Linked DNA regions of Homo sapiens. The protein of the gene in region 2 interacts with the protein of the main gene of each other region in a pairwise test. Each region holds a gene or a part of one and is shown on either strand. Other genes may lie near its edges.

Region 1 (3,500 bases), on a different chromosome or scaffold from region 2:
TGAGACTCTATCTAAAAAAAAAAAAAAATAACAAACCTAATGAATATGATTGGTCCCTTATCTCCATACAAATATATGTTTCTTGATACCCTTCTCCTAGAGTTATTATAAAGATTTTAAAAATAATCTATATGATTAATTTAGCACAGCGCTAAACATTGGTTTCAAATATGCCTATGCACTGATCTTTACAGAAATGAGTCTGTGTGTATCTGTAGAAAAGGGCAGGAGCTATGTCAAGCCATAGCAGAGTAAATCACTGACTTAAAACCATACAGAATGCTAATCTTACTGATATTGCAGTTGCAAAGAAAATCATCTGTTGGCTCATTGATGTACATAGGGTCTGCTTGGGCAATTCATTCTCATGGGAAAAAGCTCTCAAAATAAATACGAAACCTAAATAGTCAAATGGAGAAAGGAAAAGGAGGGCCTGTCTGATGAGCTGGCTGATACTGGAAATGAACAGAATGTCCATAGGACCAAGACATGGGGAAAAAAGTGAGGCGTGACTAATCTCACCCTGCTGCCTCCAAGGAGTATCGGCCTCTGACATCATCCCTTGAAACTCTCATTGTAGAGTCACAAGGCCCATTTTGAGCAACTCTAGAAGAAAGTAACTAGAAGGCAATCTTTGGACATAATGGTAATGCATAATTACTGAATGACAGAAAACACTGGAACACATGTCATTTCACTTCTGACCCAGCCATTTATTTTTATGGGAAGAACAACAAGAGAATGGCAATGAAATTACAGCAAGAACACTTTAGCTTAAGAATTGAGTAGAATTTTGTTTTTTAACTGATATTAATAAAAAATGTAAAAATGTTACCTTTTAGCATTTAATAATCATATTTTAATCAATATTGATTCTAATGTGTTTTCTGGAAATTTTTAAGATGACTTAGAGTTTCTATAACACTTCATTGTCCCATTTTCCTTTTAATTTAGTTTTTGTTATTTTCAAAATTAATAAGCTGTATCATTCTTTAAATTTTGAATCTTATCTTTCTTAAATTTTTTACTCGGAGATTTTAAAAAATTTTTTTGGAGGTAATGTGTGTGTGTGTGTGTTTTTTTTAAGAGACATTTACAATCAGTGTAAAAAGTATCCCACTATTGTGAAATTGAAAGAAATACCTGGTATACCATGTTGCAGTCTAAATCAGATAGTGAGATTACTGGGTTTGCTTTTAGTGGATTTTATTAGACAATGTATCAATATTATCATTTTCTTTTTTGTCTAGAAATAAACTCGTGTGTATGTATGTGTGAGTAATATTTTTAACCCCAAATGAAAATTGAACCAAAATTACAGTTGGGCATTTTGTATGTGTTAGACTGTCAGTGTCAACATCATCCAAATATTGGTTAACATCACCTGTATACCAGGTAATATTGAATCCAAACTCACCATATAGTGTTAATAGCATAAAGTATTGTATTTTCTTCACTCACCTGAAATGTAATATTGCATAGAAATAGCCCATGCAGTTTTTCATATGTCTTCTTCATCCAACAAATGTGGCTGTGATTAAGTACTCATAAGCAAAGAATCATGTAATGAAAAAAATTTACATACATATGAAATAAGCACACTGGTTCTCAGGCATGAAACAAAGCATATCATCTCTTCCTTTGCATCAAGACTTTTTTTTCTTAAACAAGCAAGACACCGAATAGTGATTTTGAAGTATAAACTTCTTCATAAACATATTTTCAACTCAATATTGTTTCAATTGTAAATGTAACAGGTTTTTTTTAAAGGGCTGCATAGATCTTTGCAAACTTTATATTCATCTCAAGAGACATATTGACTGGGAAAATATTAAGTTCCTTTTAATTTTATTTTTCCCTGGAGCATTTTAAAACTTTGTTCAATCTTTATGGAGTGCATTTTCAAAAATAGATTTCTACTTTCAGTAATAATGTCTTCACTAATCATGGTACAGTACTTCATAAATAGACCAATAATATTTTTGATAAATAATTGATTCATTATTCCCATTTGCGCATGCATATTCAAACTGCATAAGCATCTATAAAATAAGATTGGCTCCATGTACATATAAATGAGACTAAAAGCATACAGAGAAATGGTATATACTCTCCGTACTTTTGACATCTTAATGGTGGATTTTAATAAGGGGAATTCTATATCTCTGGCACGTACTTGTGGTTGGGGCTCAACGGTTTTCATAATAGGATTCTAGCCCCTCGGGAGATGGAAGTTAGGAGCAGAATGAAGGCTTTGGTCCCAAAGATGGGAGTTGTGAGAGCAAAGTGGCAGATGTGTGGTAGCAAGGATGAACTATGTAGAATAAGGAGCCTCTCTAAACTCTCTGTATGGGTTTTAAGCTTTAAACATTGATGGCTTTCATTGTGGGTATGACAGAAATATTTTACAAATGACCATCACCTAAGGCAAATTGAATTTTCTTCTTACAACTTACACGACTTTCCTTCTTGTCATTAATAGTATTTTTCATATGTTGCAAAGAGACGATTGTTAATTCAAGAAAACATAGTTACCTCAATGTCAGTAAGGCTGATTATAGGTGGTATTTTTGGATAGATTGTGATTTTAACAAAGTCATTCAATTAAAAGTTTCCTGAGGTTGTTTGAAGACTTAAAGTGTGCAGTTCCATTCTTTGCCTTTTGAAGAACACCATTTCCTAGATTTCCCCAAGTGTTTTGAGATCGATGGAGATGTTGTGAGAGAGGGAATTGACTGTGAATAGCTGTGTGACCACAGGATGAATGGGATGAATGGTCATGATCATAGCTCTGGTGCCCAGCTGAAGGGGAGAGAATAGAAGAGCTTGCAGTGCTGCTGCCACAGCCTTTAGGGGAGAGGAAATGTTCACACACCACAGTAATGCCGAATTATGTTAACCAAATGATATATGTGGTGGTTGACTGAAGTTTTTTAAGCTTTCCCTGAGGCAAGAAAACTATGGCCTGATATTTATAGAGAGAACATAGATAATGTCAGAGTTTTGAATATTCTTATTTTAAAATACTTCTTAAGATATCCTCCATTCATACCCTTCATTCAATGGAAAGATCTAGCAAGGTTCTTTTATGTGGAACTCAGTATAAAAATACTCTCTTAAACTCACATGACTAACATCTTTAGAAAATGTCTTCTTCTGTAAATAAAAATAATCCATAGGGCACTTCACAGACTGTTAGCAGTATTAAGCCGTAGATAATTTGAATTAATGAGTTCAAATACTTCATTTTCTTAGTGAAAGAAAGTAAACCATGGAAAGATCAATGGGTCCATATTGGGTGATAAAATGAGATAGGGTAAGACCTAGGATCAGAGCTGGGCTCCTTGGTCTCCCAGCCCAGTGCTTGTTTAGTTATACAACACTGTAGGCAACAGGCTACAGGTGGAGGCACTGATCTTTCCACAAACGGATTTGACTGTGTCACTTACTAGATTAAAACCCTTCAAAGCCCATTGAGACCCTGCCACCTCAGAATAGAA
Region 2 (3,500 bases):
CCTGCCTGGGCTTCCCAAAGTGCTGGGATTACAGGCGTGAGCTACTGTGCCCCGCCTAGGTTAGCTTTTTAATTGGCACTGTGTGCCTGCCCCTGAGGATAATTATAATAAAGGTAACAAATATTGGCCGGGTGCAGTGGCTCACGCCTGTAATCCCAGCACTTTGGATGGCCTAGGGTGGGTGGATCACTTCAGGCCAGGAGTTCGAGACCATCCTGGCCAACATGGCGAAACTCCGTCTCTACTAAAAATACAAAAATTAGCTGGATGTGGTGGTGCACACCTGTATTCCCAGCTACTCAGGAGGCTGAGGCAGGAGAATTGCTCAAACCTGGGAGACAGAGGTTGTAATGAGCCAAGATCGCACCATTGCACTCCAGCCTCGGTGACAGAGCAGGACTCCATCTCAAAAAAAAAAAAAAGGTAACAAATATTGAAGCCGGGGGAAGGCCACTCTGGCTGCCAGGTGAAAGACATCGTGGAGAGGAGCCCCAGAGGGTGTGAGGTGAAGTGGAGGGGTGTGGGGAAAAGGCGATGGCCCTTGGATCCAGGTGGGGTGGTGGGGATCAGGAGAGGTGGGGGGATTTAGGAGACAGAGCAGTGGGGCTCACTGGCACCCTGTGGCTGTGATGGGTAGGAGTTTGTCTGCTCCTGCCTCACCTTGATGCCCTGAGGGCAGGGACTCAGTCTTGCTCACTGCCGTAACCCTGGCTCCCAGCGGGTGCCCTGGACAGGTATATTGAATGAATGAACCATTTCAGTAGAAAGACCCCTTAGATATTGTGTGAGCCAAGCCCTTTCTCCCTCTGGTCCCACAGGTGGGGAAACTGAGTCCCAGAGAAGACTGACATGTTGGGTCACTGGCAGTGCTGGGCCTAGGACCTTTCAGCTGGGTTCTGAGAGCCCCACCCTCCACTGCAGCTCTCACTCAGCCTGTCTCTGCAGGGGTCTCCGTCCACGTGTGCAATGAGCACCGTTATGGGTACATGAATGTGCCGGTGAAATCCCACCAGGGGCTGGAAGACGAGAGGGTCAACTTCATCCACCTGATCTTAGAAGCACTAGGTGAGGGCTGGGGAACTGTTCCACCCACCTGCTGCCGGGGCTCCCTGCCTCCCCACGGTGCCCCTTTCCCTAGGCCCTGGACGGAGCGGGCATTGGCCTTGGGGTTCCAGCTTTGTCCCTAACTCGTTCCATGACTCTGAGAAAGTCCCTTTCCCTGTTGGGCCTTAGTCTAGCATCCCTACAATGGGGGCAGGTGGATCCTGTGATCTCTGAGGTCCCGTCCTGTGGGGTGTTCTGCCAAAGGGGGCAGGAATGAGGCTGGGGGCTAGGACTTCAGGGTGACTGCTAACAGGAGTCAGTAGGGACTCGTGCTTGGGGTGTGCTTCCCTTTGCAGTGGACGGCCCCCGCATGCAGGCCTCAGCTCATGTGACTCGGCCCTCTAAGAGGCCCAGCAAGATAGGGTTTGACGAGGTAAGTCCCCCAGCCTGTGGGCTCGCTGTTAGGAGGTGGATGGGCCCTCCTCTTCCGCTCCCTTGCACTTACCGCCCACCCCCCTGCCTCCTCCAGGTCTTTGTCATCAGCCTGGCTCGCAGGCCTGACCGTCGGGAACGCATGCTCGCCTCGCTCTGGGAGATGGAGATCTCTGGGAGGGTGGTGGACGCTGTGGATGGCTGGTGAGCCTGCCTGGTGGGGGGGGCCCTGTGCGCTTGGGGAAGCAGTGTGGTCCATCTCCTAGCCCGCTAGGACTGGGAAAAGCAGACAGGTTGAATGAGTTTCCTGTCCCATGTAGTATCCAAATAGGGTCTGAGTAATATCCTCTCAGGGAGTTCCGGAGCAGACACACGTGGGAGAAGATGCCCTCCTGCTGCTCACCAGAGGAGGAGAGCACAGTGGCTGAGGCTCCAGGGCCTGGGTTCCAGCTCTACCAGTTACTGAATGTGTGACCTCCAGCCAGCTACCCCCATCTCTCAGCCCGTTTGTATAAACAGCAGATAACTGTGCCCTTCTCTTAGGGTTTTGTGAGTTTAGTGAAGTTAGCCAGGGCCGGGCACATAGTTTCCAAAGGCTTAGGTGTCTCCCTTATTATTACTCTCCATCCTGGACTTGAGCTACTGATGCGTGGGGATTAGGAAAGGCCAGCCATGTTCCCCCGAGGAACCCAGAGGCTAGGCTTCTCCAGCCACCAGGGGTCCTATGGCCCCATATGTCGGCTGCCATTTGCTTCAAGTACTCAGCTCTTTTTATTTTTTTTTTAGAGACAGCGTCTCCGTCTGTTGCCCTCCGTCTGTTGCCCAGGCTGGAGTGCGGTGCCACAAACATGGCTCACTGCTGCCTTAAACTCCTGGGCTCAAGTAATCCTCCCACCTCAGCCTTCTGAGTAACTGGGACTATAGGTGTGCACTATCACATCCAGCTAATTAAAAAGAATTTTTTTTTTTTTTTGAGGCAGAGTCTCGCTCTGTCGCCCAGGCCTGGAGTGCAGTGGCGCAATCTTGGCTCACTGCAACATCCGCCTCCCAGGTTTTAAGTGATTCTCCTCCCTCACCTCCCAAGTAGCTGTGATTACAGGCTTGCATCACCACACCCGGATTAAAAAAAATGTTTTGTTTTGTTTTTTTTTCATAGAGATAGGGTCTCACTCTGTTGCCTAGGCTGGTCTTGAACTCCTGGCCTCAAGTGACCGTCCTGCCTCAGCCTCCTGAATAACGGACTACAGGCATGCACCACCATGTCCACCTAATGAAAAAAAATTTTTGACTGGGCACGGTGGCTCATGCCTGTAATCCCAGCACTCTGGGAGGTTATGGATGGATCACCTGAGGTCAGGAGTTCGAGACCAGCCTGGCCAACCAACATGGTGAAACCCCCTCTCTACTAAAAGTACAAAAATTAGCCAGGTGTGGTAGTGGGTGCCTGTAATCTCAGCTACTTGGGAGGCTGAGTCAGGAGAACTGCTGGAACCCAGGAGGCAGAGGTTGCAGTGAGCCGAGATTGTGCCATTGCACTCCAGCCTGGGCCGACAACAGTGAGACTCTGTCTCAAAAAAAATTTTTTTTTTGAGAGATGGGGTTTTTCTCTGTTGCCAAGGCTGGTCTTGAACTCCTGGCCTCAAGCAATCCTCCCACCTTGGCCTCCCAAAGCACTGGGATTACAGGTGTGAGACACCACATCCCCCGAGGTCTCTTGACCATAGGCTATCCATCCTTTGCTTGGGCCTCTGCCCAAGAAGTATCTATCATGTTCCCACATTCTTCCTAGAGTGCCTCCCCCTCAGGCAGCCCCCTACCATCCCACCCTTTCCTCAAGGGTCACCCCTGTCTTATCATATTAGGACATGTCCTAATAGTTATCCTCTCAGAACTCCCGAGGTGGCTGGGCGTGGTGGCTCATGCCTGTAATCCCAGCACTTTGGGAGGCTGAGGTGGGTGGATCACCTGAGGTCAGGAGTTCGAGACCAGCCTGGCCAACATGGTGAAACCCCATCTCTACTAAA

Evidence for each region. Proteins that work in one complex are often made in the same cells at the same time.
Region 1: the proteins of CERCAM (region 2) and VGLL3 interact in binary tests that used the Homo sapiens proteins (3 or more experiments, as listed by UniProt).

Annotation. Positions count from the first base shown.
Region 1 is NC_000003.12:86,970,650-86,974,149, reverse strand, and holds part of VGLL3 (transcription cofactor vestigial-like protein 3), read left to right. Parts: intron 1-3,500. UniProt on the Homo sapiens protein: May act as a specific coactivator for the mammalian TEFs.
Region 2 is NC_000009.12:128,427,357-128,430,856, forward strand, and holds part of CERCAM (inactive glycosyltransferase 25 family member 3 isoform a precursor), read left to right. Parts: intron 1-945; coding exon 946-1,065; intron 1,066-1,400; coding exon 1,401-1,477; intron 1,478-1,573; coding exon 1,574-1,680; intron 1,681-3,500. UniProt on the Homo sapiens protein: Probable cell adhesion protein involved in leukocyte transmigration across the blood-brain barrier. Does not express any beta-galactosyltransferase activity in vitro.